Linked DNA regions of Homo sapiens. The protein of the gene in region 1 purifies or fractionates together with the protein of each later gene. This does not show direct contact. Each region holds a gene or a part of one and is shown in the gene's direction. Other genes may lie near its edges.

Region 1 (11,236 bases):
CGGCCTCCGTGCTGCTTTTTTTTTTTTTTTTTTTTTTTTAATAAGATATGGCTTGGTATGGTGGCTCATGCCTGTAATCCCAGCACTTTGGGAGGCCGAGATGGGCTGATTGCTTGACAAGCCCAGGAGTTTAAGACCAGCCTGGGCAATGTGGCCAAACCCTGTCTCTACAAAAAAAATACAAAAATTAGCCAGGCATGGTGACATACACTTGTCATCCCAACTACTTGGGAGGCTAAGGTGGGAGGATCACCTGAGCCCAGGAGATCGAGGCTGCAGCGAGCCGTGATCATGCTACTGCACTCCAGACTGGGTAACAGAATGAGACCCTGTCTCAAAAAAAAAAAAAAGCAAAAACAAAAGATGATTTTCGTATTAGCCATTTAGGAGCTATGCTTTTTCACTTAACACCATAACAAAACATTTTTTTCCGAGTGGTATATAGGCCCCTGGCAAGATAATGGGGGTTCTGGCCTGAGAACACTGGAGCCCTTTAATAGGACTCAAAGGCCTAAGGCTTTTGAGAAAGGTCACTGTGCCTGTTTATCTTCAGGTTTTCCGTAGCTTAAATCTACCCTTGTGACGCCCATAATCCCAGCACTTTGGGAGGCGAAGGCAGGCGAATCACCTGAGTTCAGGAGTTTGAGAGCAGCCTGGCGAACATGGTGAAACCCCGTCTCTACTAAAAATACAAAAATTAGCCAGGCATGGTGGCACATGCCTGTAGTCCCAGCTACTTGGGAGGCTGAGGCAGAAGAATCACTTGGACCCGGGAGGTGGAAGTTGCAGTGAGCTGAGATTGCCCCATTGTACTACAGCCTGGGCAACAAAGCAAGACTCAGTCTCAGGAAACAAAAAAAAAATCTACCATTGTGGCTAAAGGAGATACTAATCCTGACTGCTGTTCTTAGAGAACTGGGGCCTGTACACCTTGAACATAGTCTCCAGATGTACTCTCTTGTGTTTGGCATGGGCATCAGATTCAGTGAGCCCTTTGTAATAAATAATACAACTTCTGTATTTTTTTTTTTTTAAGTAGAGAGGGAGTTTCACTATGTTAGCCAGGATGGTCTCGATCTCCTGACCTCGTGATCCGCCTGCCTCGGCCTCCCAGAGTGCTGAGATTACAGGCGTGAGCCACCGCACCCGGCCTAAATAACACAACTTCTAACATCTGCATGGTGCTTTCCACTAACAAAGCACCTTTCATCATGACTCTCACTCCTCACAAGTCTGAGAGGTAAAAGCTCTATTTTACCGATGAAAAAAATCTTCTGGAACAGGTATTCTGACTCTGTAAGTCATGTACCTCTTTCATTCTTTCATGTGGGTCCTTTCTGTTGCCAAAGTTCAATTGATTGCAATATTTTCCTATTTGCTCCCACTTCCTCAGTAGATAAAAACTGTTAATGGATAGTATTTGAGTGCTTTCTCTTGCCAGGCACTACCTATGCACTTTATATGAATTATTTAATCTTTTTAACAACCACATGAGGTAAGCTCAACAGCCCCACCGTATAAATGTAGAAACCAAGATTCAGAGAGGATAGGTTATTTGCCCAAAGTCACACAGCTAGTAATTGGTAGAGGTGGGATTTCAATCTACATCTTCCTGACTCCAGAGTATACTCTCCTAACCATTGTATGTACTATTGTGAAAGGTAACTGAGTGTCCTCTTTCTTTTTCTTTTTTCTTGCTATATTGCCCAGGCTGGAGTGCAGTGGTGCAATCATGGCTAACTGCAGCCTCTGCCTCCCAGGCTCAAGCGATTCTCCCACCTCACCCTCCCAAATAACTGGTACTACAGTCAGGCACCTCTGTGCCCGGCTAATTTTTGTATTTTTTGTAGAGATGAGGTTTTACCATGTTGCCTAGGCTGGTCTCAAACTCCTGAGCTCCAGAGATCTGCCCACCTGGACTTCCCAAAGTGCTGGGATTACAGGCATGAGCCACCTCACCACCTTGCCCGGCTGTCCTATTTCTTTGATTTGCTCTTCCCAAGAATTCAAGCAAAGTTTGCCTTGGAAATCCAATACCTTTGTTATATGTGGTGATGAGCTGTAGAACAGAGGTAGGAGATGGAGGAGGGAGTAGCAATAATCCCTGATTATGAGTTCTGCACCTGCTTCTGATTTATTGGGACATCAGGTAAAGTCCCTTTCTCTTTGTTGGGGTATTCCCACCCATAAAAATGAGATTAAAAATTTGCCATGAAGAAAACACAGAAGAAAAAGAAGGCTAAAATATTGAGCTGAAATTGAAGGGAAAATATTTGAGTTCCACAGAATGGTGACATACTTTGCATAAATACAAATTTAAAATATCATTAATGCTATGGTGATAATCACTACTTTGCGATGAATTAAGTACAGCCCTCGGAATCAGTTTACCAGGGTCATCTTGCCAAATGAAGACAGTTGGAAAATGCTTCCGTGTGCCTCAGGTTTCCCGCCCCTGTCATCCACCACTCCCTTGATGTCCCTTTCAGGGGGACAACAGTCTGAATCTGCCCTGAGACACTTACAGGTCTCCTACACTTGGCCTTCTCACACAGTGGGGTGACTGTGGAGCAGATCAGCATTTGAATGAGAACCTATTTGTAAAGCTCTTTGGCTGTAAGGGAGACGCAAGTTTAGTAAACTTGAGGCAAGGGGCCAGAGAAGATGACAGTGATGTCACTTCGATCCTCATGACTGATGCTTTTCTTTTTCCCAGTGGCGCTATCTCGGCTCACCACAACATCTGCCTCCTGGGTTCAAGCGATTCTCCTGCCTCAGCCTCCTGAGTATCTGGGATTACAGGCATGCACCACCACACCTGGCTAATTTTTGCATTTTTAGTAGAGACAGGGTTTCACTATGTTGGCCAGGCTGGCCTCAAACTCCTGACCTCAGGTGATCCACCCTCCTCGGCCTCCCACAGTGCTGGGATTACAGGCATGAGCCACCACGCCCGGCCAATGACTGATGGTTTTCTGATGTGACTTTGAGAGCTGTTAATGTGAGCAAGAGTTGATGGCCGTCGATCCCATCTGCCTGTACTTCCTATATTCTTGATGCTTTGTCTTATAGGAACCGGGCAAATCTAACTCAGTCTTCCTTTGATCCACACTGGATGAGTGAACTGCATGTGGGTGTCAGAACTCAGTGCTTTTGTACTGAGGCTGTCACCTTGTTACCTGAGGGCTGCCTTAAATCCTCAACCTAATCTCAGCTGTTGCCTCTGGCATTCCCTGGTTATTAGTTTCTTGTGGGGTGTGTGTGGGAAGTGGAGAGGAGACCTGAGGGAGGAATAGAGACAGGATATGGAAATACCTCAGTGCCACAGTACTGTATTGGTAGTGCTTGGCTAAATTCCAGAAGTCCAGCAAAAGAGGGACAATCCTTTTTATTTTATTTATTTATTTTTTAGAGACAGGGTCTGGCTCTATTCCCAGGCTGGAATGTAGTGATGTGATCATAGCTCACTGTAGCCTCGAACACCTGGGCTCAAGTGATCATCTCACCTCAGCCTCCTAAGCAGCTGGGCCTACAGGTGTGCCAGCGGACTCTGCTATTTTCTTTCTTTTTCTTTTTTTTTTCTGGTAGAGACAGGGTCTTGCTTTGTTGCTCAGGCTGTGGGACCATCTTTTGAATCTGGCAAAACCCACAGCCTATAGATTCAGAATTGCTTATTGATAAGTCATTTGATTTCTTCTGGACACGGGTGGCCTCCAAAGACTTTCAGACTCTACCTGAGCAGATGCTTGTTTATTGACATGGAAATTACTTTTCCAGATGAACTTTTAAAATCAATGGTTTTCAAGTATCAATGCACACTAGAATCACCCAGTGGACACTGTAAACCATCTGGCCCCATTCTTAAGGACTCTAATTCAGTAGGTCTGGGTTGGAGGCCAGAAATCTGCATTTTTAACAGGCATCTTAAGTGATTCAGACGGTCAGCCTCAGAATTTGGCTCAGGTTTTGAACTAGCCTTTTTTTCTGCTGCAGTCTGTTTTAATCACCTTCATTGAAGGATTTATTAGCATCTCCATGTTTATTACCTGTTTCATTCTCATAGCATCACAGCAACTCAAGCAGGAACAAGAGGTGGTTAGCTCCATTTTATGGGGTGTTAGGGGGTGGAAGGTGGGATTGAGGCACTGGGAGAGGTAGGTCATGATGAGTCAGAGACAGAGATGGGAACTGAAGTCCAAAATTGATGACTCTCAAACCAGGCAATTTTCTGGGGCCTATTTTCTCAGCTTGTGATTTTATATTTAATCATAGTTATTCCTTGAATCGCCAGTTCATTGTACTTGGGTAAGCAAAGCATATTTGTATTTTAAACAAAGTAGTTTAGCATCAAGGTGCCAGTTTTTGTTAGCATATTAAGGCTCTCTTAAGCTTGAGTTAATATCGAAAACAGTACTGTGGAACTGACTTAATCTGCTTCTCTCTGTGCATGCTTCCTTTATTATTTCTGAAGACTTTAATTTTTTTTTTTTTTGAGACAGGGTCTCACTCTGTCACCTAGGCTGGAGTGCAGTGGCAGTCACAGCTCACTGCAGCCTCAACCTCCCAGGCTCAAGTGATCCTCCCACCTCAGCCTCCTGAGTAGCTGAAACTAGGCGTGCACTACAGGCCCAGCTAATTTTTGTGTTTTATTTGTAGGAATGGGGATCTCACTATGTTGCTAGGACTGGTCTTGAACTCCTGGACTTAAGCAATCCTCCTATCTCGGCCTCCCAAAGTGCTGGGATTACAGGTGTGAGCCACTGCACCTGTCCAAGACTCTTTTTTTTTTTTTTTTTTTGAGACAGGGTCTTGCTTTCTCACCCAGGGTGGAGCGCAGTGGTGTGACCTCAGCTCACTGCAGCCTCAACCTCATGTGCTCAAGTGATCCTCCCACCTCAGCCTCCTGAGTAGCTGGGACTATAGGTGCACACCACCACGTCCTGCTAAGTTTTTTTTTTTTTTTTTTTAGAGATGGGGTTTTGCTATGCTGCCCATGGCTGGTCTTGAACCCGTGAGCTCAAGTGATCCATCATGTGCACCACTGCCCCAGGTGACTTTTTACATAAAGTATAAGAAAACAGATTCCTCCTCTCAATGCCTACAGGAATCCCCTCTGATCTTCTAACTGGTAAAGTACTAAGTTAAAAAAACCTCTTAGCCCTCTGTCTCTCCAAGTTGGGTAGTATTAAATATATGAATCCATTTTTAGCCTGGGCAGCATGGTGAGACTCTGTCTCCATACACACACACACACACACACACACACGCACACACACACACGAAGCTGGATGTGGTGGCACATGCCTATAGTCCTAGCTACTCAGGAGGCTGAGGCTGGAGGATTGCTTGAGTCCAGGAGTTTAAGGTTACAGTGAGCTATGATTGTGCCACTGCACTCCAGCCTGGGAAACGCAGCAAGACCCTGTTTGTTAAACACACACACACACACACACAACACAATAATTTTTTAAAATCCTGAAAACTCTCAGTTAAGTCATTATTATTATTATTTTAGAGATGGGGGTCTTGCTGTGTTGTCTAGGATGGTCATGAACCCCTAGGCTCAAGTGATCCTCCCACCTCAGCCTCCCAAGTAACTGGGAAGACAGGCACGCGTTACCATGTTTAGCTAAATTGTTTTTATTATGCTGTGGTTATTTAAATTTACGAATATAAAGTAGGAAAAATGTGCTTTTATTTCTAGTTCTTACACAGCTAAAAAAAAACCACAACAAATTTACAAATTAAATACAAATGAAACCACAAAATGAATACTATTCAATTAAAAATATTATAGTAATTTAACGTGACAAATGATGTATTTTGCTAAAACTGTCATCCGTCGTATTGTTACTATGGTGTTGCCTGCTATAGCTCAGCTTCTTTTGTGTTCAACATGCCTATGCCACCAAGTGACTCCTGATATCTTAATTTTCTCACCATTTTTCTGTTACAACTACCAAATAGTGCAATCTCATGATGCATTTGGCTTTCATTTTGTGCATGAAAGTATCATTGTCATTTTAAAACCACCTCTGTTCTTTTCTCATTATCCCAGAACAATAAAAGCAGCACTAAAACACACATGTAAATGTGGGTGCTGAAATTGTGTGGCAATACTTGGTTGTAAGGTGGTCACCCAAATAATTCAGAATATGCTTATACAAATCTAAAAAATATGAAAATGAAAATAAAATTAAAACCCTAGAGAATACATTCGCAGACATAATTTGAGAAAAACTGTTCAGGTCTGCTGGTTCCCAAACTTTCATTACTATCAAAGGCTCTAGCTATTGTGCTTACTTCCAAGAACCCCATTTATTTATTTATTTATTTATTTATTTATTTATTTATTTATTCATTATTTCATTCATTCATTCAAAGGCTCTATTGTGCTTACTTCCAAGAACGCTATTTATTTATTTATTTATTTTAGAGACGGGGTCTCACTCTGCCGCCCAGATTGGAGTACAGTGGTGCGATCCTGGCTCACTGCAACCTCTGCCTCCCGGGCTCAAGCGATTCTCATGTCAGCCTCCCGAGTAGCTGGGACTACAGGCTCCCGTCACCAGCCCAGCTAATTTTTGTATTTTTTAGTGGAGACAGGGTTTCACCAAGTTGGCCAGGCTGGTCTCGAACTCCTGGCCTCAAGTGATCCGCCCGCCTCGGCCTCAGAATCCCATGTTTTAAAAAAGTTTGTCTCCTACACTGCATTTATAGTTTTATTAATCAGGCACATAGAATTACCATTTCGGAGCTTGTGATCACCATATGTAGTTATCACTCCAAGCTGCTTAAATTCCAGTCTAAAACAAACAAAACATTCTAATTATTCTGTGCTACCCTGACAGGGGTAAGTGAAAACTTTCCATTCAGGTTTGTAAGAACGAGCTCCCAGACCTCCACCTCTTCCCCTTGCTGCCTCTGAGGACTCTTGGAGGTCTAGGGAGGCCAGTTTGGGTTTTCTTGCTCAAGAAAGTAGCCACCCCACCCAATTTGGAAGGATTAAAGCTTGTCCTAGTTTTGCTTCATTGTTGTACTTCTAGCATGCTAAAGAGCTAAAAAATGGGAGGAAGAAAATACAACAGAAGGCACCATTCCAGTACCAAACTGAAAAGAAACACAAAAACAAGAGAGCAGCATGTTTTTAACAGCTTGCGTGGAAAAAATATTGACTGGGGAGTTTGGACAGCACTGTTCATTTTCTCTCACCGCCCGCGTTATTTGTCTTACGGAGCAGGAGCCAGATACCATTCTGGAGAAAGAGCCGCGGGAAGAGGTGGAGGGGTTCTGTGGAAGTTTGAGTCTGAGCGGAGAAATTAGGGCTGGAGATCCAGTGGCTCAGGGCCAGGAAGAAGTCAGGGGAGGTGCTAAAGCCTTTTTCCTCCTGGCCTCGGGCACTCTCTTTGGTCCGCCTGAGTCTTAAGAGGGCACAGCGCAGATCATTCAGGTAGGTTCCTGGCTCCTTCAGACTACAACGAGCTGGATGAATCCCTGTCCCTGTTTCTTTCGGCTGGGGAAAGGACGCAGGGGTTCCATTCGCTTTCTTAGCCCACCCGTCTTCTTGAGTTCAGACCTACAACTCCTGCAGTGGGGGTCAGAAGGGAGCCTTAATCATCGGGACAGAAACGCGGCTCCCCAACTTCGGCTAAACCAGCGTGGCGGCCTTCGTCCCTACTGCCTGGGCGCGGGGCGGGGCCTGGGCGCGGGGCGGGAGGCGGTGACCAGCAGCAGGAGGAGAAAGAACATGGCGGGCGCATCAGAGCTCGGGACCGGCCCAGGAGCAGCGGGTGGAGATGGAGATGATTCGCTATACCCGATCGCGGTTTTAATCGACGAGCTCCGCAATGAAGACGTGCAGGTACTGGACTGAGGCCGGGGACCCGAGGCGAGACCGGCTGGTCGCGTGGTAGAGAAGGGGGAAGGCCTGCGTCGCGGTGGGGGTGGCCGAGGTACTGAATGAGTCGGACTCGTAGCAGAAACTTGAAGGGGAGGCGGGGAATGCTCCGCGAGGGGCTGTGGTGACACGCCCCGACCCTCCCGGGTACCTCTCTAGTAACCTTGCTTCGGACCCCCTGAGGCGTCCGCCCGGAGCCTTGCCCTTCCCGGGCGGTTGTCGGGGAACCCGCTTCCCGCCTGGGCGCCCCATCCGGGCCGTGAGGTGGCCGCGTCTCTTGGGCGAGGGAGCAGGAGAAGCGCGGTGCCAGGCCGAGACGGGGCTGGAGCGGCTGAGGGGCGCAGGATGCCCAGAAGCCCTTTGAAGTGCCCCTGGATCCCTTCATCTCGGCTTGGAACTGGCTCGGCTTGTTGGGTAGAAAGCGGGGGTGGGATGGCCGATTAATCTGGACGAGTAGTGTATCCGCTCTGTGGGAACTTTTCTTTGAAACCACAGGTGTTGTATTCAACCGTTTCACCTGCTTCACCACTGCCAAAGTGCTCTCTTTTTAAAATTATCTTACTTCCTAGGTGTTGTATTGTCTTTCCTTCATTTCTCTTCCGGTCCCTTCTGAGTGTTTCTCCTGGGAAATCCTCCGCCGGCTAGTGAGGCCGAGTTACACTTCTTTTTGGAAGTCCTTATGAGCTTCCTTAACAGTAAAATCTAAATGAAAGGTTATCTTCATTCTTACCCCTGTGTCATAATTTCACCTGTTAGCACCTTTTGTCTTTTGATCTAAATTCAGCCGTTTCTTTACATTGTTCTTCTTTCTACTTTCTTTTCTGAAGCTCCGACTCAACAGTATTAAGAAGTTATCAACAATTGCCCTAGCACTTGGAGTAGAAAGGACCCGAAGTGAATTGTTGCCATTTCTTACAGGTATGTGAATCTTTGTTTAAAGAAAGGTAGGGACATTCCATTTTCCAGTAGCTTTCAACACTGACTTTTTTAGAGTTTATTACCCACATTAAAATGAGCCAGGTGTTTTTTGTGCAAAAGAAACAGAACAGAGTATATTGTTAGTTGTGGCTAGATATATTCAAACATCAACCATTTAGCTATTGAAAGTAATTGATACGGGAGTATGAATTTCTAATTCGTTGTGCAAAGCAGATACAGGAAGACGGTTGAGAAGAAAGAAAATGCTGTTAGGATTTTGACTGGGTCACCTTCCTGGTCGCATAGTGAATCTGTTCCTAGTTTTGTGTCAGTGTCCAGCTGTGGGAGAGCTATCCATGTTGATGAGTCCTGTTGTTGTCACTTCCAGATACAATTTATGATGAAGATGAGGTACTATTAGCTCTTGCTGAGCAGCTGGGAAATTTCACTGGCCTAGTGGGAGGTCCTGACTTTGCCCACTGTCTGCTGGTGAGTATTTATAAGCTGCCTACCCTCCTTCTACAACTTTTGCAGTATAAATGATACATTGTTTGGTGATAGACACACTGCAGCATTTTTTATGCAGATCTTTTTATGGGCAGATAGTCATAATGTTAGTCATTGAGAGAATAAGTACTGTAGGCACTTTGCACTCAACTCCTTTTTTTTTTTTCTGTAAATAAGAGAACTTCGTCCTCCTTTTCTGCGTCTGTAGACTTATTAGTTTAGATGTAGGGAGAAAAAGGGTTTGATTGTTTTTATGGTTCCCCCGCGCGATGGTGGAAGTTTTAATTCTCACCTAGCAGCATTTTGTCTTTGTCAGTTTAACTTTTGCTTCTGACTTTGTGAGTTTGATGAATTTAGTTCAATTTAATTGACATTTATTGAGAGTCTACTTTATCAGACACATCATAGTTTACAATGTTAATGTTGAAGAAGACCAATGTGAGGGGGCTTGGTGGCACAAGCCTGTAGTACCAGCTACTCAGGAGGCTGAGACTGGAGGATCACTTGAGCCCAGGAGTTTGAATCCAGCCTGGGCAACATAGTGAGACCCCCATCTCTTAAAAAAAAAAAAAGACCACCAAAATGAATCTAATGAGGTCACTGCCTTTATGTGTCAGCAAATAATTACCGTGCAGTCGTAAATGGAAAGATATAAGTACCCACAAAATACCCACGTAATAGAAGGGAGAAAGGGATTCACTCCGGGTGATCAGGGAAGACCTTGGGAGATGATGTCTGAACTAGGTTTTAAAGGATGACCAGGAATTCAACAGTTGGACAAGGTAGGGGTGTATGTGTCAGAGCTTTGAATACTGGGTATGTAATACTGATTCTTGTGATTTCTGTCTCTAGTTCTGACTTTTCCATGGAACTCCTGAGGTAGATTGATTAATAGATAAGTATGAATATATATATATAGAGAGAGAGAGAGAGAGAGAGTTTTTTTTCTGTCTATGTATATAGGCCTATGCTTTTTTCTACTTGTATGTCAAACAGGTATTTCAAACTTAACATACCCAAAACAAAACTTAGCTTTATCCCCCAAATACACCTCTCATTTAGTTGTTCCACTTCAGTAAATGGTATCACTATCTTCCCACTTGCACAAGCCAAAACCTAGAATGTATTCTTGAATCCTCTGTGCCTTGTTCCACACATCTAATCCATTAGTAATTCCTATAGAGTCTACGTATATTTCAAATAAGTCCACTTTCTTCCATCCCTCCTATTACCAGCCTAGTCCAGACTGTCATCTTTCCTCTAGATTGCTGTAGTAGCTTCCTAGCAATGCTTTCCACTCTTGCCTCTCACCCGACTCTTACAGTTCACATCACCCAGCAGATGGCTCACTCTCTGCTATAGCTCTTAGAAAATCCAAATTCTGTACCTTAGCTTACAAGGCTTTTTATGACCCGCCTCTGTAGGATTATCATATGCCCAGTGGTACTGCATGAGAAGAGGTGACAGTAGGCAGGGAACAGACTGCAAAAGGCCTTGATAACCTCTTCCATTCACATTGGTCATCTTTCTGTTTTTTGAACTAACCAAGCTCATTATTCCCTTAGGACCTTTGCCCTAGGTCTTCCCTCTAATGAAAAGCTCTTTCAAGCTTTCTGTGGCTGGCTCCTTGTCATTCAGGGATCAACTTCAATGCATCTCCTCAGGGAGGTTTTCCCCAACCACTCAACTTAAAATAGCCTCACAGTCATCCCTTACTACATCATCCTACTCCTTTTTTCTATAGAGTACTCATCACCATCTACTTATTTTCTTGATTGATTGTTGTCTTACTCCATTAGAATGTAAATGCCACTAGAGTGAGGAACCTTGTCTGCCTTGTTTCTTCTGTGTCCTCAATGCTAGAATATACCAATAATAATGTATTGAAAAAATGAGTTTCAGAGGCTTGGAAGC
Region 2 (10,467 bases), on another chromosome or scaffold:
ATGTATAAAAGTCCACCTATTTCCACTAAGTTTTACCATCTTAACTGCCAGGCATTTTGTTAAGGATACATAGATGCGTAATAGTTCTTAGAGTTACTTACACTCAAATAGCCACAGTGAACTTAATATATAGCAGTCGGATTCTTCCATTAATGTTGATGTTAGTAAATATAACGTCATAATGTTTGACCTTGGACTTACCTATTTTATTTTTTTAAACTTATGTAGATTATAAAGCATTGTCTTTTCAAAGTTTTTTTCTGACATTCTTAAAACTTATTTTCTTTCAAAATATATGGTTCAAAATAAATAATTCTGCTATTTCTAAAGTTCAGAGTTAAAGAATATTCCACAATGGTACAGAAGCTTTTGAGTTTTATATATTTTGGCCTGAATTATCCAGGCAACAGCCAAAATTCTTCCCTTATATTTATGGCTTATGACAGTGCTGACTTTTCATATCATTATGAGAAACTCAGAGATCTATCTCATGGATAAATCAGGTTTTTCAAATTTGGGAAAAATGAAAAAATTTTTGAAAGAAATTGGGGTTGATTTGTTAATGACAAATTTGTACTAACATGGCAGGAAAATATCCATGGAAACACCAGGTAAAGTTAATTGTTTGTTGCACCCTCATAAAAATTACTCGTACTTATTCCTTTGTTAAGTTTTTAAAACAGTGAATTATGTTGAAAAGCCCTTGTTTTATTCTTTACACTGGTAAATGTTAACCTTAAACACCAAAATTTTCCTTTGTTTTAATGATACCTTCTGTGTCTGTGAGCTTACAGAACTTTAAAGAACTCTCTAAAGTATTCTGTGGAGATATATATATATATATATATCTCTTTAGAGAGAGACATATATGTAATATAGATATGTATCTTTATATATATCTCTCTCTCCACAGAAATAGTAAATATTTAAACTCAATGTGTTTTGGGGGATGGTATGGAAAATGGAAGACATCTTTAATTTTCTGATATTTTAATAACTGGGACTTCTTAATAGTCTGTTTTGTTAATAAATTGGTTTTAAAGGCTGCCGGAAAGTCAAGCGGTAGCCATTAAATGAACCTCTACTGCTGACATTAATTTACAGGGGCCAACAGGACAAAACTCTACGACATGATAGCTGATCTGGGAGATGATGAGCTGCCCCACATCCCTTCAGGAATCATTAATCAGTCTAGGTCAGCCTCTACTAGAATGACTGATCATGAAGGTGCAAGAGCAGAGGAAGGTACAAAATTTAGCTACCATGTTTATTTACATTTCAGAAGACCTTAAATCCAAATCACATCTTAATGCAACTAGGCTACTGTTATAAAATGCTGATGATCATTTTATATGATCTTTAGAGAAGGTGTTGGGCAAGCTCTTGATGTAACTAATTTAGGGATTTTGACATTTCTGGTTTCTATTTCTTTATATTTTGTTTTTGTTTTTAATGTGAGGAGTTGTTGTTTCCATCATAGGTGAATTCAGAGTCTTTTCTTAAATCTAATTTTAGCTACAGATCCAGTAATGGGAAAATAGTAATTTATAAAAACAAACTTAAAATAATACATATGGAAAAAACTACTCATTTTGTCTTATTGCTTAAATTTAGGAACTAATAGTAATTACCACTTACTAGAAGACAACTATGGTGCCAGGCATTGTGCTTGGAACCTTTTTTTTTTTCTTTTTTTTTCCTTGAGACAGAGTCTCACTCTGTCTCCCAGGCTGGAGTGCAGTGGCATGATCTCGGCTCACTGCAACCTCCGCCTCCTGGGGTCAAGCGAGTCTCCTGCCTCAGCCTCCCAAGTAGCTGGGACTATAGGCGCACACCACCATTCCCCGGCCAATTTTTTGTATTTTTAGTAGAGACAGAATATTACCATGTTGGCCAGGCTGGTCTCGAACTCCTGACCTCAAGTGATCTGCCTACCTTGGCTCCCAAGGCGCTGGGATTACAGGTGTGAGCCACAGTGCCCAATCTGTTACATTAAATATATATTACTTCAAAAAATATATGTAACTGTTACCTAAATTAATCATTTGAGAATAAGGCAGCATCATTATTCTTTAACTTGGTAGCAAGTATACGCTACCTAGTAATGAATTTTATAAAATTTGCCTAAACCAGAAATGTGTAGGAAATGAAAGTACTACTTAAACATTTTTTCCAAAATTGATTTTAGCCGAAGATATATGGGTATACTTGAATCATGTATAACTCTAAGTCTAGATATTTATAAGTATTAAATCTGAATTTTTAACCAAAGATTATTGTGACATATGAGATACAGTAATTTGGCATATGTATTAAGTTTAATTGATGTTATTGCCTTTGCTCTGTAAAGGGGATTTGTTTGATGTCCCAGTCAAAAAATTTTAAATACATCTTGTTCCCTTTTAAGATTTCCCTAGTGGCACAGTTTCCTTACAGTTAAATAATTTTGCATTTTTTCCCTCTCATAATTTACCATTTACTTCACTCACCTTAAAAAAAATCACTAAAGTAACAAAATCATTCAAAACAAAATGAATGAAAAATAAAATAGTGTCTGTTAATTTTTTCAGATCTCATTTCCACTATTGAGATATATTCCTGTTTTACTTTAGAAGTATTTTCTAAAATACACATAGCAACTCCTTTTTTTTTTTTTAATTTTATGCATTTAGTGGTGATTTTGCTTCGTTTTTGGTCTGTTTTGCCAAATATGCATAGTACAACTTGCTAAAATTTTTGTAATTAATGTACATTTAAAGTGCAGGTTTTGCAATTTAAGGCAAAGCCACGTTAGCAATGTGGACCCTTTTAAATGTTTCAAACCAATGACTTAACGGAAAAAGCCAGTCAAGGCACACTCTACACAAAAACCAACTTAGAACTCTCTATGTGTGTTTGTTTATGTGTTATGTGTGTGTTTTAAAGAAAGAATATAGGTCAGTGATCTGTTTCTTGATGCTGGTAGGAGGGCGAGGGGAGAGATTTGATAAGTGTGAACTTCATTACAGTTTTTGAAGTATCGATCTTCCTGGAATTTGTTATTTAAAGAGGTGTGAGTTTGACTTCAAGCTAAGAAGGCAGCTTTGGAGTATACAGTCTCCTTATTTTCAGTGGCAGTCCCCAACTTCCTTCTTTACTTTTGAAGTCCATGTCCTACCTCATTTTATAAAGAACAAATGTCTGTTTTCTAGGAGTGGAACTTCAACATTACAATCTTCTAGACTATTGCTGCTAAAGACTTGAGACCTACCATGTTGCCACTGGTATAAATGGAATCTGTTACCTGGACTAAGTTCTTGGGAAAAAGAGTTCAATATGCGAGCTACAGGTTTCCTTCATCATAAGTGTCCATCAAAAGGAAGATTAGTTACAAAAGTCTGAAAAAGACCTTGTATTTTATAGACCCGTTATACTAGTATTGTTATCTTACTTGATGAAATCTCTTAGGCCTCCTAAATTTCCATCATTAAATTAAAAACTAGGGCAGGCATAGTAGCTCATGCCTGTAATTCCAGCACTTTGGGAGCCCAAGGCAGGAGGATCACTTGAGCCCAGGAATTCAAGACCAGCCTGGGCAACATAGCAAACTCTGTCTCTATTAGAAAAAAAAAGAAGATATTAAAACTACTTTTTTTAGGCCGGGCGCGGTGGCTCACACCTGTAATCCCAGCACTTTGGGAGGCCGAGACTGGTGGATCACGAGGTCAGGAGATCGAGACCATCCTGGCTAACACGGTGAAACCCTGTCTCTACTAAAAATACAAAAAAATTAGCTGGGCGTGGTGGCGGGCGCCTGTAGTCCCAGCTATTCAGGAGGTTGAGGCAGGAGAATGGCGTGAACCTGGGAGGCAGAGCTTGCAGTGAGCCGAGATCGCGCCACTGCACTCCAGCCAGGGCGACAGAGCAAGACTTCAAAAAAAAAAAAAACCAAAAAAACTACTTGTTTAAATAATTACATTTTTCTTTGAATTACTAATGACATTTTTATATTATGGGTAATTATATTACCATTAATAAAATGAATAGGATAGAAATTAATTCCCTCTGCAGGGAAATAAGGGCAAACAGATGAGTAGCTGCTGTGATTACCATATGCCACAGTGATGGGTAATATGGAAAGCAGAGGTAGTAGTGTAAAAGAATTTTTGCACATATATGTGTAAATAGTGATTAAGCAGAATAGCTTGCAATAGGTACATAAATATGTCATAAAATATATGTGTGTATATAGAGAAAAAGGACAGAAATGTGGTCATATGATTAATTAGAAATGAGTATAATACTAATTTTTTGTTAAGTACAATTAAGCCAAAACTCGAGTAAAACTAATGTCCAGACACTTCCCTTCACATGCTCCTAAATTGGTCTGGCTGATCAGAGATAGTCTTGCAAAATCATTTGTTACGTTAAAGTTATTTTATTGGGCTTTTGAGATTTGTGTCAGTGAATGTTTGTATAATTGTGAGTGGGAGGAACTGTGGCATTTTGTTCTGACTTCTCTTAGAAACAAATTCCCTGAGCTTAAAGTAAAAATATTTCTTTGTCTAGAGAAAAATGCTTTGAGTAAATATTATATAATGACTTTTATATAATTATCCTTAAACATAAGTTTAAATTATTGATTTTATAGTTTTTAGCTGCTTCTGGTATTGCCAATAACTGCATACTAATAATTGGTAGGAAAAGATCAAAAGATCAATGCTACAGATTATTCAGATTCAATAAGTGTCATCATTGAAAGATTAAATACTACTTAATATCTCTATATATTTTCTGTCAGGTGCTTTCAGATTCATTTTAGATCAAGTAACTGAATCAGAGCTGCATTTTAGAGCCCTATTTGAGTCAGATTATATAGCTTATTTTGATAGGATAAAATAATAAAATAACAAGATATTCTAAGTACAGTTGAATTTTATTTTGCCATAGTATATATATGAATTGTGTCTTCTCAGAATTATTTCCAGTAGTTTAGTGATGACTGTCAAGTTTCATTACACCTGTTGTGTTTCCTGTAGCATATTTATATCATTTTTCATGGGAATTTTTTTAAAATTGATAATCAGCTTGATTTTTTGTATAATGTGTCCCTTTTAAATTTGCTCATGAATTTTAAGTGTGTTTTGATATATTGAGTTTTATATTATGATTTGAGTATTTCTCCCTTGTTATCTTAATGTTAAAATTTTGCTTTCAAAGCATATTTGAAATGATATTGAAGGTTGTTGCTTAAACTATGACTGTTACAACAAAATATTTAGATAATAGTCATTCAATTATGGCAGAGTTTAATTGGTCAGTAGTATGTATAGAAAGGAAAACGCATTTTAAATAATTGGAACTGTTAATATTAACATGAAAAGCTGTAATAATGCACATGATATAGTTGAGAAAACTAAGTGAAGCTCAACCTGAGTTTAGTTTGAAATTGAAATGGCAAATCTGATCAGAAATTAAAGCTCTGTGGTCAAGATTACTTGCTTCATTTTAGAGTGTCATGGTAACTAGAATGGGACATTAAAATAAAAGTCATAGTCAAAGCTTTAAAGCTGGAAGACAGGCTGGGCGCGGTGGCTCACGCCTGTAATCCCAGCACTTTGGGAGGCCGAGGCAGGTGGATCACTTGAGGTCAGGAGTCAAGACCAGCCTGGCCAACATGGTGAAAGCCCATCTCTACTAAAAACAGAAAAATTAGCCGGGCGTGGTGGCGGGCGCCTGTAATCCCAGCTACTTGGGAGACCGAGACAGGAGAATTGCTTGAACCTAGGAGGTGGAGGTTGCAGTGAACCGAGATCGCACCACTGCACTCCAGCCTGGGCGACAGAGCAAGACTGTGTCTCTAAATAAATAAATAAATAAAGCTGGAAGACATTCTGAAGACCACGTGGATTAACCTTTTATAGAAAGGAAACTGACATTGTTGGTGGAAGAATTTTTTCCTAGACCATTGCTGTTACTAAAGGAATCTGAACAATTAAAGCTTCATTCTAGTGAACTGATATAGTATATAGCTGACTGTAAACCATTTACATTTCAATGTTTGTACTAGTTTTTATCAGGGACTAGGATGCCTAGTACTTCTTTAGAAAGCAAAAGGACTTGGTGACAACCTATTAACATTTAAAAAATACTATATGACTACTTTGAGGTCCTTGAGGTCCATGGTAGAGGTTTCCCCTCATGAATGCAAAAATCTGATATTTAACTCCATTATTTAATCAAAATTTGTCCTATTTCTTATTTAACATGTAAACTATAGTTATAATTGTACTGAAGTGATAAGAGATTTAGACAGACAAAGCTTTTGTGCCCTAGCTTCCACCCCAGAATAATATATCTAGTGCACATTTTATTTGTGGACAGTTAATACACCACAGTTCCAACACATTTGTTTAACACTGCTTAGTAACAGGATTTTTTGAGTAGAAGTGGGAAAATAAAAATTAATTATATTACTGAATATTGTAACTGTTAAGTGCTTAAATTTTCCCCACAATATTGTCTTGTACTGTATGATTTTTCAGCATTTAAGAAGCGGTTTTGTTCTTTATAGCTGAACCAATAACGTTTCCATCTGGAGGAGGCAAGTCATTTATTATGGGTTCTGATGATGTTTTGTTAAGTGTACTGGGCCTTGGAGACCTTGCAGACTTGACGGTAACAAATGATGCAGACTATAGTTATGATGTAAGTGCAGTTTTATTTTTAATTTTTTAATGATTTAATAGAAGGCTCCTTATTTTTTGGAATCACTTATAAAACAGAATTAATATCAAGGTGCATGGAAAAGATAAGTTTGTGTCAATGTGTTGATTTGAAGTGACATGTTTTTCTTTTATAACTACTCTCTTTGTGGTATTTAAATTTTTTTTTTAGGTATTTTGGTGGATTAACTAGAAGTTTGAGATGATTAATATATTGGTCAGTAAATACATCTTGAGTAGTCAACTCTCAATTATCTCAAATTAAGCCATATTTTGGTGTTAACAAGAAAAAAAATAACCTGAATCATATATTTGCCTTCAGAGTACTTCTTAAAAAGCATGTTTTATTTTTGAACTTTTATTTTCTTAAGGAAATATTTTAAAGTTTCTGAACATTTTAAAGTTAGCTTGCATCATTTCCTGAATACTTAACTCCTTCATTAGAGGATTGGGGAGTGGATGGAAGGGTTGGGGAGTGGGGAGTCCAGTGTTAGAGGTGAAACTTGTCTTGGATTTAATTTTTTCTAGTCATTAATATTTCAATTGAGAGTTAACTATACTTGTTAGATCTTTATGTTAATTGCAGTTTTTCAGCAATTTTTTTTTCTTTTTATAATGAGTTTCTTTTTTCCACGTTTTATACTTAACATTAGCATGCTTAGAGACAGCCTTTGGTGGGCTGGATTATTCTCATTAATATATTTTTTTAAGTATATAAGTGACTAAATTCCAGTAAACTTTTGACTGCTTTAGAAGTGGTTTCACAGCCTATCTTTACAGATGGAGAAATGTGAAGGTAAAAAGATAAACCTCTGTCAATATCAAGAATTATGAAAATGGGATAAAAATATTCTTAAAGGGTCTTTAGTTCAGACTTTCAGAAAGTACCTTAACTTGCTGCCTTTAATAATTTCACATGCTAATACGTTTTCTAAATGACAACTTTACTGTTAATACTGTACCGTTGGATATTTGTAATAACTTATGTAATTATTTTTCATGTAAAGTATTGCAGCAATGGTAGTTATTTTGTTCTCATCTGACATTTAATGGGAGCTTTGGGTTTAGCTTAATAGGTAAAAACAGATTAAGGAACTCTTCATTTGACCTAGGCTATTTGTAAGGCGAATGAAATTATTCTGAGTTATTATTAAATGATAAAGTTTTTTTAGAAAGTTTTAAAGGTACATTAAATTTCCACTGGACATTTTAGCCAACAGTTTTAAATATATGTGTTAAACACACCAAAAAGAAACGAACAAACACTCCACATGCCTTCCAGTTTACTACTTTTACCACTAAATATTGTGCTCTTTCCTTTTAGTTGCCTGCTAATAAAGATGCCTTTCGAAAGACATGGAATCCCAAGTATACACTACGTAGCCATTTTGATGGAGTACGGGCATTAGCTTTTCATCCTGTAGAACCTGTGCTGGTTACTGCTTCTGAGGACCATACCCTGAAACTTTGGAACCTGCAAAAAACAGTTCCTGCCAAAAAGCAAGTATTTTAGTGTTAGCCTGGTGTATTTCTTCCAATTTTGCTAATATAAGTAATTATTCCTCATTATTGTTGCATGTCTTTAATGCACACATTTGATCTAATGACTATTTAATATCAACCAGTGATTCATAGTTATTTAATTGCCTTCTCTTCCCCTACCCTTTTTCCCCCTCTTTTAGGAGTGCCTCTTTAGATGTAGAGCCTATCTACACATTTAGGGCCCACATGTAAGTTTTACTGAATTGGTATTTAATTAACATCATCATTATTGTTAAATATTATTTATCGGTCCTCAAACCTTGTAATTTTCTCAATGTTTTGTATTAGAAAAGATGTATTACTTGAATAATAGCTATTTAATAATTGTATTGGTGAGACTATGAATATAATAGTACCATTCAGGCCAGATGCAGTAGTTCATGCCTGTAATCTGAGGATTTTCGGAGGCTGAGGCGGGCAGATCACTTGAGGTCAGGAGTTCGAGACCAGCCTGGCCAACATGGTGAAACTCCGTCTCTACCACAAAATACAAAAATTAGCTGGGCATGTTGGCGTGCGCTTGTAGTCTCAGCAACTCAGTAGGCTGAGGCAGGAGAATCGCTCGAACCTGGGAGGTGGAGGTTTTACTGAGCAGAGATCACCACTGCATTCCAGTCTGGGCTGGTGACAGAGTGAGACCCTGTCTCCAAAAAAAAAAAAAAAAAAAAAGTACCAGTCAGGTGTACATGTTCTCTTAAAACAGTTTTTAGATATTACATAAATTCAGAGGTTGGGGGAATGGAGATTTGAGTTTCTTCTTAGAATTTATCAGTAATTTGTTTTTCCTCTCTTCCTACAATAGCGGCCCTGTTCTGTCATTAGCTATTAGTTCTAATGGAGAACAGTGTTTTAGTGGTGGTATTGATGCAACCATCCAGTGGTGGAATATGCCGAGTCCCAGTGTAGATCCATATGATACATATGGTAAGTAAAATGATCAAAATGTATTTTTTTTAAGTGAATGGAGCTGACAAAAGTAAATACCTCAAATATGATTACAAGGTTATTTAAACCTATATTAGTCACCTCATTTAGTTCTTCCATTTGCTAATAAATTGCTTTATTAAAGAGAAAAATTAGGAAATGTCATGCCATGGGTATTTAAGCCTATGAATTGATACTTTCTCTGTTGTTTAAAAAACTATATTAATTAAAATGTTAATTTAGGTAGTAGTTACAAAAAGAAGGAGGAAACAAAATGTAATCTAAGTAACAAAATTTTGAACTTAAGAAATAGTTTATATATTTTAAAAATATTAAGCAAAAGACAATGGAACCAACATCAGGGGTATAAATCATTAAAACTTTTTGGAGCCAAAAATTTTTTTTGTTATTCTTAGCTCATATCTACAAAAACATTCTTAATTTCAAAATGGAAGAAAAAAAAAAAGAAAGGAAACCTCCTTTGACTTGCAAATGTAGCTTTTAGAAATCTGTTCTACAGAAACACCTACCTGTACCTGTGTTCAAATATATTTGTAAGGGCACTGTTAATAATTATAAAACGTTAAAACAAAATGTTTATGAACTCTTTGTTCTTTTTATTTAACACACACATTGTGCCTACATTAGCTAGGCATTGTGGTAAGCACTATGTCAAGAAATAAGATTTAGACTAATGGAAAGTAGAGACATAAAACAGATAAGCGAAGGGATGGGATCTATGGTTACAAATTGTGATAAATGATAAGAAGATAGAGTACTGTTGAGAGGGCGTAACAGGCAGAACCTTCTCTAGAAGAGTTAGTCAAGAAAGGTCTTTCTAAAATAGTGACATTCAAGCCAAAATCTGAAGGATAAGAGGAAACTTTCAGTAAAGAGTTTTAAGCCAGAAAGTTATCTGATAAATGTAAGGTTTTAAAAAGGTGACTGTGTCTGTTGTGAGAAGAATAAATTGGGGGCGAGAAGAGTGGAAAGAGAAATACCAGTTAGGAGGCTGCTGTCATAAAGTAGTCCAGTAAACTAGGTGACAAACGACATTGCCAAGATTAGAGTGGTGGTAGCACAGCATTTAGAAGTGGTTTTAAGATACGCTGAGGGAGTGTGGTAGAATAGACAGGATTTATTGATAAATTATGTTGAGTAGATAAAGTGATGGGTGAGTGACTCTTAATTTGTATGTGTTTAACTGCTTTACTGAGATAATTTACATATCACAAAATTCACCCTTTTAAAGTATACAGTTCAGGCTGGACACAATGGTCCATGCCTGTAATCCCAC
Region 3 (10,467 bases), on another chromosome or scaffold:
TTTATACTAAATGATTAATTTTCAATTCTATTTGAAGAAAGCCATATTTATTCTGAATAGGAAATTCTATTTTTCATTTCTCGTAATTTCATATTTTAAATCAACTTAATTTTATATTAATAGTATGATTTGGTACAGCTCAATACAGATCATGTTGTGGCACTCAGAATTCCAAACCTGAAGCTTCTTATTGGATGCAGGAAGTCAGGAAATAAGTGCTTTTTCAGGTTATGAAGAAGATATTACAGACTCTTTTTTGGTTTTTGGCTTTCTTAACCATTGCTTTCTGTCGTTAGCCATAATCTAGACAATCACAGTTTAGGTTGCAGTTGATGAAGAATACGACATACATATACTCTTGTTTTAATCTGAGAACTAGCTTTAAAAGTGATGATATGTTGTGTGTGTGCACATGCATGTGTGAACATGTACATGCATATGTTTACATATGTTCTTGTGGTGTTCTCACTCTCTGTCTCTCTCTCTCTCAAAAAGTTTCTTTATTCCTTTGTGGTTTTCATCATTTTCCCTTCCTAACCTGTTGTTCATTGTTTTCTTCTGATATGCTGAGACTTGTTTGGGGAAGTAAGCATGAATAGAACTTTGAGCTACTTGGATGTAAACGAGAGAGACAGGAAAATAAATTAAACTCAGGTGATAGAATTGGAAAAGGAGAATTTTTTTCAGCAAGAAATTACAGGTTTTAGACTCTCAATAAATTTAAAATCATGTTTAAATATATGACTCAAAGCTACAGTAGCAAAATAAAAAACTAATATGAAATTAGAAAGGATGAGAACATTTTTGTAATTACCTTCAGAGATTATATGGCCAATTTGTGAACATCCTGAGTGGAAATAGTGCTTTTTAATGACTGCAGGTTAATAAGATGTCAAGTCTGGTAGATAAGATGGATAAAGAGAACTAGGCGAGTGAATCCACATTTTCCCCCAAGAGATGTGACTCTAAATTAATAGGACTTTTTACTTGACACTGGAAACATTTTGAGAAAACTTCCAAGAATGTTTTTAACAAAGGCAACATTACTGGAATAAATGATCATTATTTTGAGTTGTAATATGTCCTGACATTTTCTAAATTATGTTTTTTACTTTTAAAGTTGTATAAAGAAAACTTAAATTAGTCTCTTATTATGTTTTACTGTGAACTACCCCTTGTTATTTATAATTGATTGTGTTGTTCTGTTTTGGAATTTAGCATATTTTTTTAAAAAAATGAAAGGACCAAACAAGCTTCAAGGAGAAAGTGAGTTTTATATAGAGTTTAAAGTGATGAAGGATGTTTGTTAGAATAGGAATAAATTACCCTTCTTCTCATTGATGTCAATGGCGATTTGACTGTGGTAAAGTCAAAGGTAGTTGAAGCAGATACGTCACAAGCTAGGTATGAGTAGTGTTCTTTGCATTCTGCCGACTTCTCTGATTTATCATCAAGTGGAGAAGCTTCCTTAAAAGTGTTACCAAATAAGAACTTTCTTTTGCCTGTTTCCATGATTTGATTTCAATCATATTTATTTTCTAGCTCTCAAAGCAATTGAGGCTATTCTCTGAAACGTCTCTCTCAGAATATATGGGATATTTCACTTAAAGTATTTCTTTTTTTGTTGTTACTGTTATTCTCTTGCTGGACTTTACCACGGGTGTTGCTCAATGGAGTATTATCTGTGGAGGAAATAATGCGTAGTCTGAATTTTATAAATAAACATCTCTTTGTTTAGGATCTAAACCAGGTGTAACTGACTAAGAACTTACTCCACATGGTCAAGTGAGTTTTTGTTTTATATTTATTTTTTTTTGAGACAGAGTCTCGCTCTGTTGCCCAGGCTGGAGTGCAGTGGTGCGATCTCAGCTTACTGCAACCTCCACCTCCTGGGCTCAAGCGATTCTCCTGCCTCAGCCTCCCAAGTAGCTGGGACCACAGGCGTGTGCCACCATATCTGGTTCATTTTTGTATTTTGCGTAGAGACAGAGTTTCACCATGTTGGCCAGGCTGGTCTCGAACTCCTGACCTCAAGTGATCCGCCTGCCTCGGCCTCCTAAAGTGCTGCGATTACAGGTGTGAGCTACCGTGCCCAGCCACATTTTATATTTAAATAACAGGCTGGGTAATTACCTGCCACTAGCATTGGGAAAAGACTGTCTTCAGTTTTTAAGATGTTATATTTCTAGGAGCCACATGAAAATCCTGTAAGATTAGACTATTTTTAGCTGTATTTTCTATTATGTGAATATAAACTTGTAATACCTATTCTAGGGTTCAAAAAATTTTTTAAACTCTATTTTGAAATAATTTTAAACTTGCAGAAAAGGTACAAAAATAGTACGAGAACTTCTGGCTACCCTTCACACATATTTAGCAGTTTTTAACATTTTGTCACATTTGCTTTTTCACTCTATATATGTGTATAATTTTTAATTCTGAACCATATGAGAGACGTCATGCTCCTATTCCCCTAGATCCTTTAGCGTGTAATTCTAAGATCAAGGGCATTCTCTGATGTAGTGTATTACAATGATCAAAATCCGGAAACTTAACATTGACACAATACTATTATCTGAATTACTATTTATATTCAAATTTTGAGAGTTGTTCCAGTAATATATTTTACAAGGACACCCCTTCCTCTCCCTGGACCATAATTTAATTTTTAAAACTTTGACATACCTTCAATTAGTGTTTTCTTTATGTCAGTTTTTCTTTTCTCTTAAAAAAAGCTTAACAGAAATCACTGAGGTTTTAAATTACTGATTTCTTTTTAATAAAAGCCTTTCAGGAAGAATGTGTGATCATTTAGGAACCAATTTTGACAGTTGTGTGATCTGCATGAACCATCAGGTTGGGAGAGAGTCAGAAGTTAGAATAGGTACTGATTTTGTCACCTGATTGTGGAGGAGTCACAACTTTTTCTGAACCTTGATGTGTTCACTGTAATATAGGCTTAATGATATGTGCTTGCCTGTCTCATTGTGTGTATAATTGAAGTTTCTTTGGAACTTACTAACACAAAAAATACAGTTAGGATGCTGACTTTTAGGATTCCAAACCTAGTTCTGTCAAATGACCATTTCTATTATGATGAGGAAGAGTGATAAAGGGATTTAAGGATTAAGAAGCCCTCTTTGTCATATATATCTTTAGATGATAATGATGTGATACAGAACTTTGTATGCAAAAAGAGCTGAGATTTAAATTTGAGAATTATCTCCATGTAAGTGATGATAGAACTTACTTAAAGTAGCAAAATCTCACAGAACATTGTAGAATGAACAGCGTTAGTGGCTCTAGACTAAGCCATAGATGGCACCCACATATAGCAGGAAATTGTAATTTATAAATATTTCCAGATTTATCAGGCAATTCTCTTTCCTAACATTGAAATTTTGAAAACAGTCACAGAATAAATGAACTAAAGACAAATAATGAAAGTCACATTATTACTTTTTCTTTTTCTTTTTTCTTTTCTTTTTTTGAAATGGAGTCTCGCTCTGACACCTAGGCTGGAATGCAGTGGCACGATCTCGGCTCACTGCAACTTCCATCTCCCGGGTTCAAGTGATTTTCCTGCCTCAGCCTCCTGAGTAGCTGGAACTACAGGCACGCACCACCACACTCGGCTAATTTTTGTATTTTTAATAGAGACAGGGTTTCACCATGTTGGCCAGGATGGTCTCGATCTCCTGACCTCGTGATCCACCCACCTTGGCCTCCCAACGTGCTTGGATTACAGGCGTGAGCCACCGCGGCCGGCCTACTTTTTCAGTCTCTTAGATAGATAATTCAGTTCTCCTTTGTGTGAAAAATATCTTTGACTAAGTTGTGTTGCTTTTTAATTTTTTCTTTTTAGCAGCCAACTCTTCCTGCCAAATAAATAGAGTCATCAGTCATCCTACTCTTCCGATCAGCATCACTGCTCATGAAGACAGGCACATCAAATTCTATGATAACAATACAGGTAAGAATTTATTAAGAATTGATTTTTATTAAAGCAAAAAAAAAAAATCCCTACCACAAGTAGGCTAATTTTGGTGTCTCTTGGTGGTTTCGTAGTCAGGGAATAGGCACTGAACCCCAAATACTCTCCCGTCTCAGTTTCTCTTCACTCTATCCAAATCTGCTAAGACTAGTCTTTATTATACAATACAGAATCATTTTGGTTTATTTAATAGTGAGCAGATGCTATATGTAGGCTTTAGAGCCAAGGTTATCACTAGGGACACCAGGAAAAGTTCACTCAAATACAAATAAAAATGATCTGTTGCTATGATCTATTGTAGTATTATATATTGGGGAAAAGTAGAAACATTGGAAATAGAGGCATATGGTCATTATATTTTGTTTAAAGTTGTTCAGTTATTGAATAGCATTATTCAATATTCAATTATTCCATTACCAAATAGCCTTTTTTAGTGTTGCGGATGGAAAACCTCCAGGTCATTGTATTCGTTTTTCCATAGACTAATCTTTTCTGTATTATAAAACTGACTGGTTGGTCCTCATTGATTTGAATTGTGCATGGAGATTTGCCCAAGTTTTATTTTATTACATTTCACCAGTATAAAGGAAATTTAGGAAGCACTGTGCTGGGAGGAAAGCACCCTATATTAGCTGCCATATTTACCTAAGTATCTGCCTTGTTAATATGTTGACTTCTGCTGACTTTGTTTAGCTGCTGGTGATGAATCATTTAATATTTAAAATTTTTTTCTGTATGTTGTATCCACCAAAATTGTGGCCATGTTTTCTTTCTGTCCCTTTTTCCTTGCCTCATTGTTTTCTCTCTGTGAATTTGAATTCTGTGTTTCCACAACTCATAATTTGCCAGTAGCTAAAGAATGCAAAGTAGGTGATTAATAATGTCTAAGTTCTAATTAACAAACGTGGCTTAAGGGTTGCGTGTAGAAATTACTGACTTCCATATCGTGGCTTAAAAGACAAAAGTGTAATCTAAAATTTGAGCTTTTTTTGGTTTTCCATATCATTGCCATGACTAGAGGCAAGAGGGAGACATGTTGTTTTAGGTGATGGAAAAAGCTATTAATACAGTAAGCACACAGAGAGGGATGACTGGAGAAACCAGCAGGACATGGTAGCTGGCAAATATTGAAGATGAGGAAAGGCATTAATAAGGAGTAACAATCTCTTTTTCCAAAGGCAAACTGATCCACTCGATGGTAGCCCACCTAGAAGCTGTTACAAGTTTAGCAGTTGATCCCAATGGCCTTTACTTGATGTCTGGCAGTAAGTACCTCAACTATGGATTATTTATTTGTCCTTACCATTTTCATGTTAATGTAATTTTTCCTTTTAATTTTTTTTTTGGATATAGGTCATGACTGTTCAATACGTTTATGGAATCTAGAAAGTAAGACGTGTATCCAAGAATTCACAGCTCATCGAAAAAAGTTTGAAGAATCGATTCATGATGTAGCTTTCCACCCATCCAAATGCTATATAGCCAGTGCTGGAGCTGACGCACTGGCTAAAGTCTTTGTATGACGCAATGCATCATCTTCACCTTCTAGCTGTTTATAAGTAATCAACTGCACACAAGAGATACAGAAGACGAGGGCAAGAATCATCTCGTCCTGCCCTTTTGTTCTGCTGAAGGAGCACAGAGAACATTTGTTGAAGTATAGTTTTGCAATTCATATACTGTTTTCTAAAACTAAGGTTTGTTCAGGTTGCTGCAAGCTCAGCTGAATCTGTGAGCCTGAGGTCTGTTTCAAATTTCTCCCCAATAGGCGCCTTTATTTCTGAGGTGGTTCTAATTCGCTAGGCAGGCCTGAGCGAATACAAGTTTAGCTTGTCCCTGTTGAGTAAGTAGGGCATGCTACAATGGATAATTTAAAAGCTTGATAGCTGGGACTGAATAGAAGAAAACGGGAAACTTAGACCAAGTTCTCCCCTGAGAAATCTTGTTAAAACACATTAAGTAGTCAAAATAGTAATCTTTATCATATCTGCCATATTAACCCCTTTGTGTATAATGACCAGGCAGTGTTAAACTGAGTTTTTAATTTGACTCTCCTTTCAGCTGTTCACATAAAGCACCTGGCAAAGCATTTTACCTGTTAGGGGGAGAAAAATGCAATAATATGTTAAATATATTATTATTCAGAAATGCTAGACAAATAGTTTGCAAGCAGATTTCTATATTGTATTACAGTTTTGAAAACAGATTTGGTATCATTCTAAAGTTTAGCTATCAAGCACTCACCATTGTGAAGAATAGTTGATCGACTCTGCTTTTACTAACAGATTTAACTTATTCAGGTTTGAAATTCTGTTTATTTTTAAGGGTAAACAGGGCATATCTCTTTAATAATTTCTATTTTAAAATTCACTTTATTCATGTGACATTTATAGTACCAGAGTGATTATTTCATACCAATGAAATCTTACTTTTCAGTGACTGAAAAGATAGAATTTATTTGCTAATAATCATTTATCAACACCCACCTAATCATGCTTCAGATGATCTGTGCTCTTTCTTCTTTGTCACGTTCAAGTTATCTGACATCTACCAAGAACAGTTCATAATTATTAATAGCCCAAAGAGTATGGTTAACTTCACGCAGCTGCTTTTGCAGAAGCACTAATAAAAACAAATATTTTGTACCCTAGAAGTCCTCTATTAATCCCTGTAAGAATCTCCTGGAAACCTGGATGAAAGAGTTTAATGCCAAATATTGGCTAAAAAGTTCTGTCTTTCTCTCTCCCTATTCCTCCCCCATTGTTTAATTGAGATATACATGTTTTAATGGGCAGTGGATCAGTATTGTTTCTGGGGAAATCCACACCTTAAAAGGCCAGGCTTCCCCAGCCCAACTTACCTGTGACCCACCTACATGTGTTCACCTTTTGGGATTCTGAAGACCCTGCTATCTAGACCTAGTCTCCTGTCATAAAGACATTATTTCTATAGTGGTTTATGTCTCTCTTACTCTTTGTCCCAAATGACAGAGACCAATCTAGAAATTGGAAATAAATTATTAACGTCCAACTTTCCACCAAAAAACATATAAATAGGCTCTTAGATTTTAAAAATATTAAATCTATAGATATTTTAACCAATTAAAACAATTTCTACATATTCCATTCCCCACATTTTCCATCGTCATAACAATGATGCTTCTCATGATACGTACATCTACTCCTTGAAAAAGTATTCTGGTGGTGGTGTGGCTAATGATTGACAAATATTTCTGTAAAATTTCTGCCTGTTTGCCTCTAGAATTCTGCATTATACAGGCAAATTTTCTTTAAAGCTAGAGACTTGTGCTAAATTTGCCTGATTTTCATACAGATATGCTGTAGTAATACAGCTACCTTTTCATTTCATCTTTGTGCTTTGGTTAACAAGCAGGCTCAAGAGACTGCTTTGTGTAATTAAATGAATTGACCTAAACATGAGCTGTCAGGTGAATACTTAATATTTCCATGCAGATACAGAATTCCATATTGTGTTCAGTAAATTTCTTTTGGTTCTTCACAGTGAAGAAAGAATGTTTCTAACCTAACATTTGTAGAAGGATACTGGAAAATTCCTTCCAGGAAGGAAGGAAGGAAGATGCCATTACTTGGTGTATTTATGATGGATGACCACAAAGCTATTGTTCTACCAGTTATTAATTACCTTCTAAGATCTTCAGTTACTGCTTTATTAATGTCACTGAAATTCTAAAAACCAGGACATTCTTCCCCCGTTCATTTTATGCTTCATGGTTGAAATTTTTCTGTCAGTGAGTGGAAAATAACCATGAGATACATAGACTGTAGCGCAAATGGAACTGTTGAAAGTTCCTTAGAAAGCCAGTGCTGTGGCATTGGAGACTACGGAGAGAGTCTTCTCTACCAGCACTGCATGATCTCAGCCTAGAAATGAGCCAAAGCTGTCTTCCAACCAGAGTAGCATATACATGTGTCTGACTTTTCCCCTAGCCTGTTGAACATTCAATGAAAATTCACAGAATGAACAAATTCAATGTTTAAACAGCCATTGAAATGCTTTCATAGTGCTTCATTTGTAAATATTTTGTTTGAAATGTATTGGAATAGTATGAAAATTAGCGGGAGGTTTGGATCCCTGCCTTATTTTCATATGCTGTGGATACATCTCTGGGAGCTTGCAGCACCCTTCTCAAAACTCAACTGTCATATGGAGCTCATTTGCTACTCAAACCATAGACAGATTATTTAACAAAAGTGATATAATGACCTTCAGTATTTTTCTATTGAACAAGTTTAACAACTTTTGCCATTAAACAAATACTTAGTTATGCAAAATATTTCGCTTTTATAATCATTTTAGTTATGACTAAAACGGGGGAAATTGAGCTGCATCACTGATGATGAACTTTGTGAGAAATTTTTTTTTTAATCTGACTTTCATTCCTTCAGTATTCTTGCTATAAATTTCTTTTGGAGATAATGATGAAGATTTATTTGAAAATGTCTAAAATGTATGTATATTTTATAAATATATATTATATATATTGTAAGAATATATATAATATATAAACTATATATATATATATATATATATATATATATATATATATATAAACCATAGGTGCATTTTACTGTTTTGTATTTTCATTTTTGGAGGTAGTATACACAGCAGATAATGATGAGTATGATGAGTGTTGTGCTGTTTGCTTTTGCAGTATAATATATAGTTCTAAGTGTTTAAATTACTGTATATACAATATTCATTATAGGCTAGCATGCTTGTTTTAAAGACTGTCATTCTAGTGTATTAAAATCTGAATGTAAGAAAACCTGGCTATTCAAATGTGAATTGAAAAATATTTTATTCTCAGTACTGAACTATTTCCATTGAACATTCAGACTTTTTAACAAAAACAAATATCATCAAGAAGGCAATAGCTAGAAAATGAGAGGTGCCTTTAAAAAAAAAAATGCAGCCTTACAGTGAGGATGAAGATTGAGTTTGGGGAGGGGGTGGGAGGGGGGGCACAGAGAGAGAGAGAGAGTTAGTGTGTGTGTGTGTGTGTGTGTGTGTGTGTGTGTGTGCATGCATGCGTGTGTGTGTGTGTGTGTGTGTTTACCAATCTGTGAAGGTCCTGATTTGTGACCATCAATGTCTTTTTAATGTATCTGCTCAACTTCTAGGACTTCAGGGGACATTTCATGCGCTTTGTGCTCTTCTGAGCACCATATATACTTTCCAAGAATTTTGAATGTGAATTCCTAGAAATTTCAGTAGAGAAAACAATAGCTATTCTTTAATTATAGTAAAGTTCAGGTAGAAGGAGAAATTATTTGTTCACCAAAATTATGGGATCTCATTAATGTTGGCTAAGTAAATGTAATTTTTTAAAGGCTCACTTTTTAATACTTCATATATTTCCCTCTTACAAAACAGCATGTCATGAAGTTCTTATGTGGTAAAGATTCAACTAGTAAATATTTTTAGGTTAAATACCTGAACTAGTTAAAATTCCACCTAAGAATAGTCTTAAAATATTTAAAAAGCATCTCTCATATCTACCTCTTTGTCATTGCTGCCATTTTAACTGAAGCAAATCTTTATGACATCTGAAATGATGGTTGGATGCAATTAAAAAAAAATCTATGTTGGTGCTTTTCTCAGGCTTTGTCATTTAAGTTATATTGTATTAAGATGTCACAAATCAGACTGAAAGGCTTAGAATTAATTTTGTTTTTCTTTGAAAGAATTGCTTAAAATTAACCATCAATGTTTTTAGCGAGTGGAGATAATGAATCTTTGGTTGGTGTCTGTCTGTGTGATGTTTTCAACCAATAGCCAAATAATTATTGAACTTACATGAAAAAGAGTGCTAAGTATAATTTTATTTAGATTACTTTATTCTTTGAAAGTGACTACAAGGCTATTAAGTACATAATCATTCATTTTATTTACTCAGAAGTTGCCTCTCCATTACTGTTAACTTGTTTAGTAATTTATATAATTGCAGTACTTTTAAGTGTTGGACACTGGGATTCAGGTTGTATACAAAGTAGTAGCTGACGAAAAATATGTATATTTTTGTGAAATGTATCAAGCCCTAAAGTTCATTTTAGAGAAAGGCCCAGAAAAACGTATCTGTGTTTAAAAACAAAGGACAGGTCATTCGTCAATTTGAATCATTTTTACTTTTGCCACTACAAACTTTTTAATTGGCAATATCCATCATCCAACTGGATCTTCATGTCAGTGTCAGGGATGCCAGGTTGACAAAGTATTTAACAGATCCTTTCAGTTTTTGTTTTGTTTTTTTAATTCTAAAAAAAACAAATGTTAGGCCAAACAGATCCCTAGATCCCACTCATTGATTCTGGCGGTATTCCTAAAGTGGTGCTTAGGGGGTCAGAATTTTCTGGATCTTTGCTAATCCAAGCTTTAGATTTAATTTAACCAGGACCACATGCTTGTCATCTCTCTGATGCAAATTTTCAAAA

The links.
Region 2: the proteins of PPP2R1B (region 1) and STRN3 purify together in Homo sapiens (co-immunoprecipitation; 5 studies listed by BioGRID and IntAct, with this or other methods). This does not show direct contact.
Region 3: the proteins of PPP2R1B (region 1) and STRN purify together in Homo sapiens (affinity purification with mass spectrometry; 5 studies listed by BioGRID and IntAct, with this or other methods). This does not show direct contact.

Annotation. Positions count from the first base shown.
Region 1 is NC_000011.10:111,762,873-111,774,108, reverse strand, and holds the start of PPP2R1B (serine/threonine-protein phosphatase 2A 65 kDa regulatory subunit A beta isoform), read left to right. Parts: upstream 1-7,719; 5' UTR 7,720-7,747; coding exon 7,748-7,861; intron 7,862-8,724; coding exon 8,725-8,815; intron 8,816-9,203; coding exon 9,204-9,304; intron 9,305-11,236. UniProt on the Homo sapiens protein: The PR65 subunit of protein phosphatase 2A serves as a scaffolding molecule to coordinate the assembly of the catalytic subunit and a variable regulatory B subunit.
Region 2 is NC_000014.9:30,909,744-30,920,210, reverse strand, and holds part of STRN3 (striatin-3), read left to right. Parts: intron 1-1,104; coding exon 1,105-1,245; intron 1,246-6,553; coding exon 6,554-6,687; intron 6,688-8,028; coding exon 8,029-8,204; intron 8,205-8,386; coding exon 8,387-8,434; intron 8,435-9,048; coding exon 9,049-9,170; intron 9,171-10,467. UniProt on the Homo sapiens protein: Calmodulin-binding scaffolding protein which is the center of the striatin-interacting phosphatase and kinase (STRIPAK) complexes.
Region 3 is NC_000002.12:36,844,506-36,854,972, reverse strand, and holds part of STRN (striatin), read left to right. Parts: intron 1-3,865; coding exon 3,866-3,973; intron 3,974-5,172; coding exon 5,173-5,259; intron 5,260-5,347; coding exon 5,348-5,517; 3' UTR 5,518-10,467. UniProt on the Homo sapiens protein: Calmodulin-binding scaffolding protein which is the center of the striatin-interacting phosphatase and kinase (STRIPAK) complexes.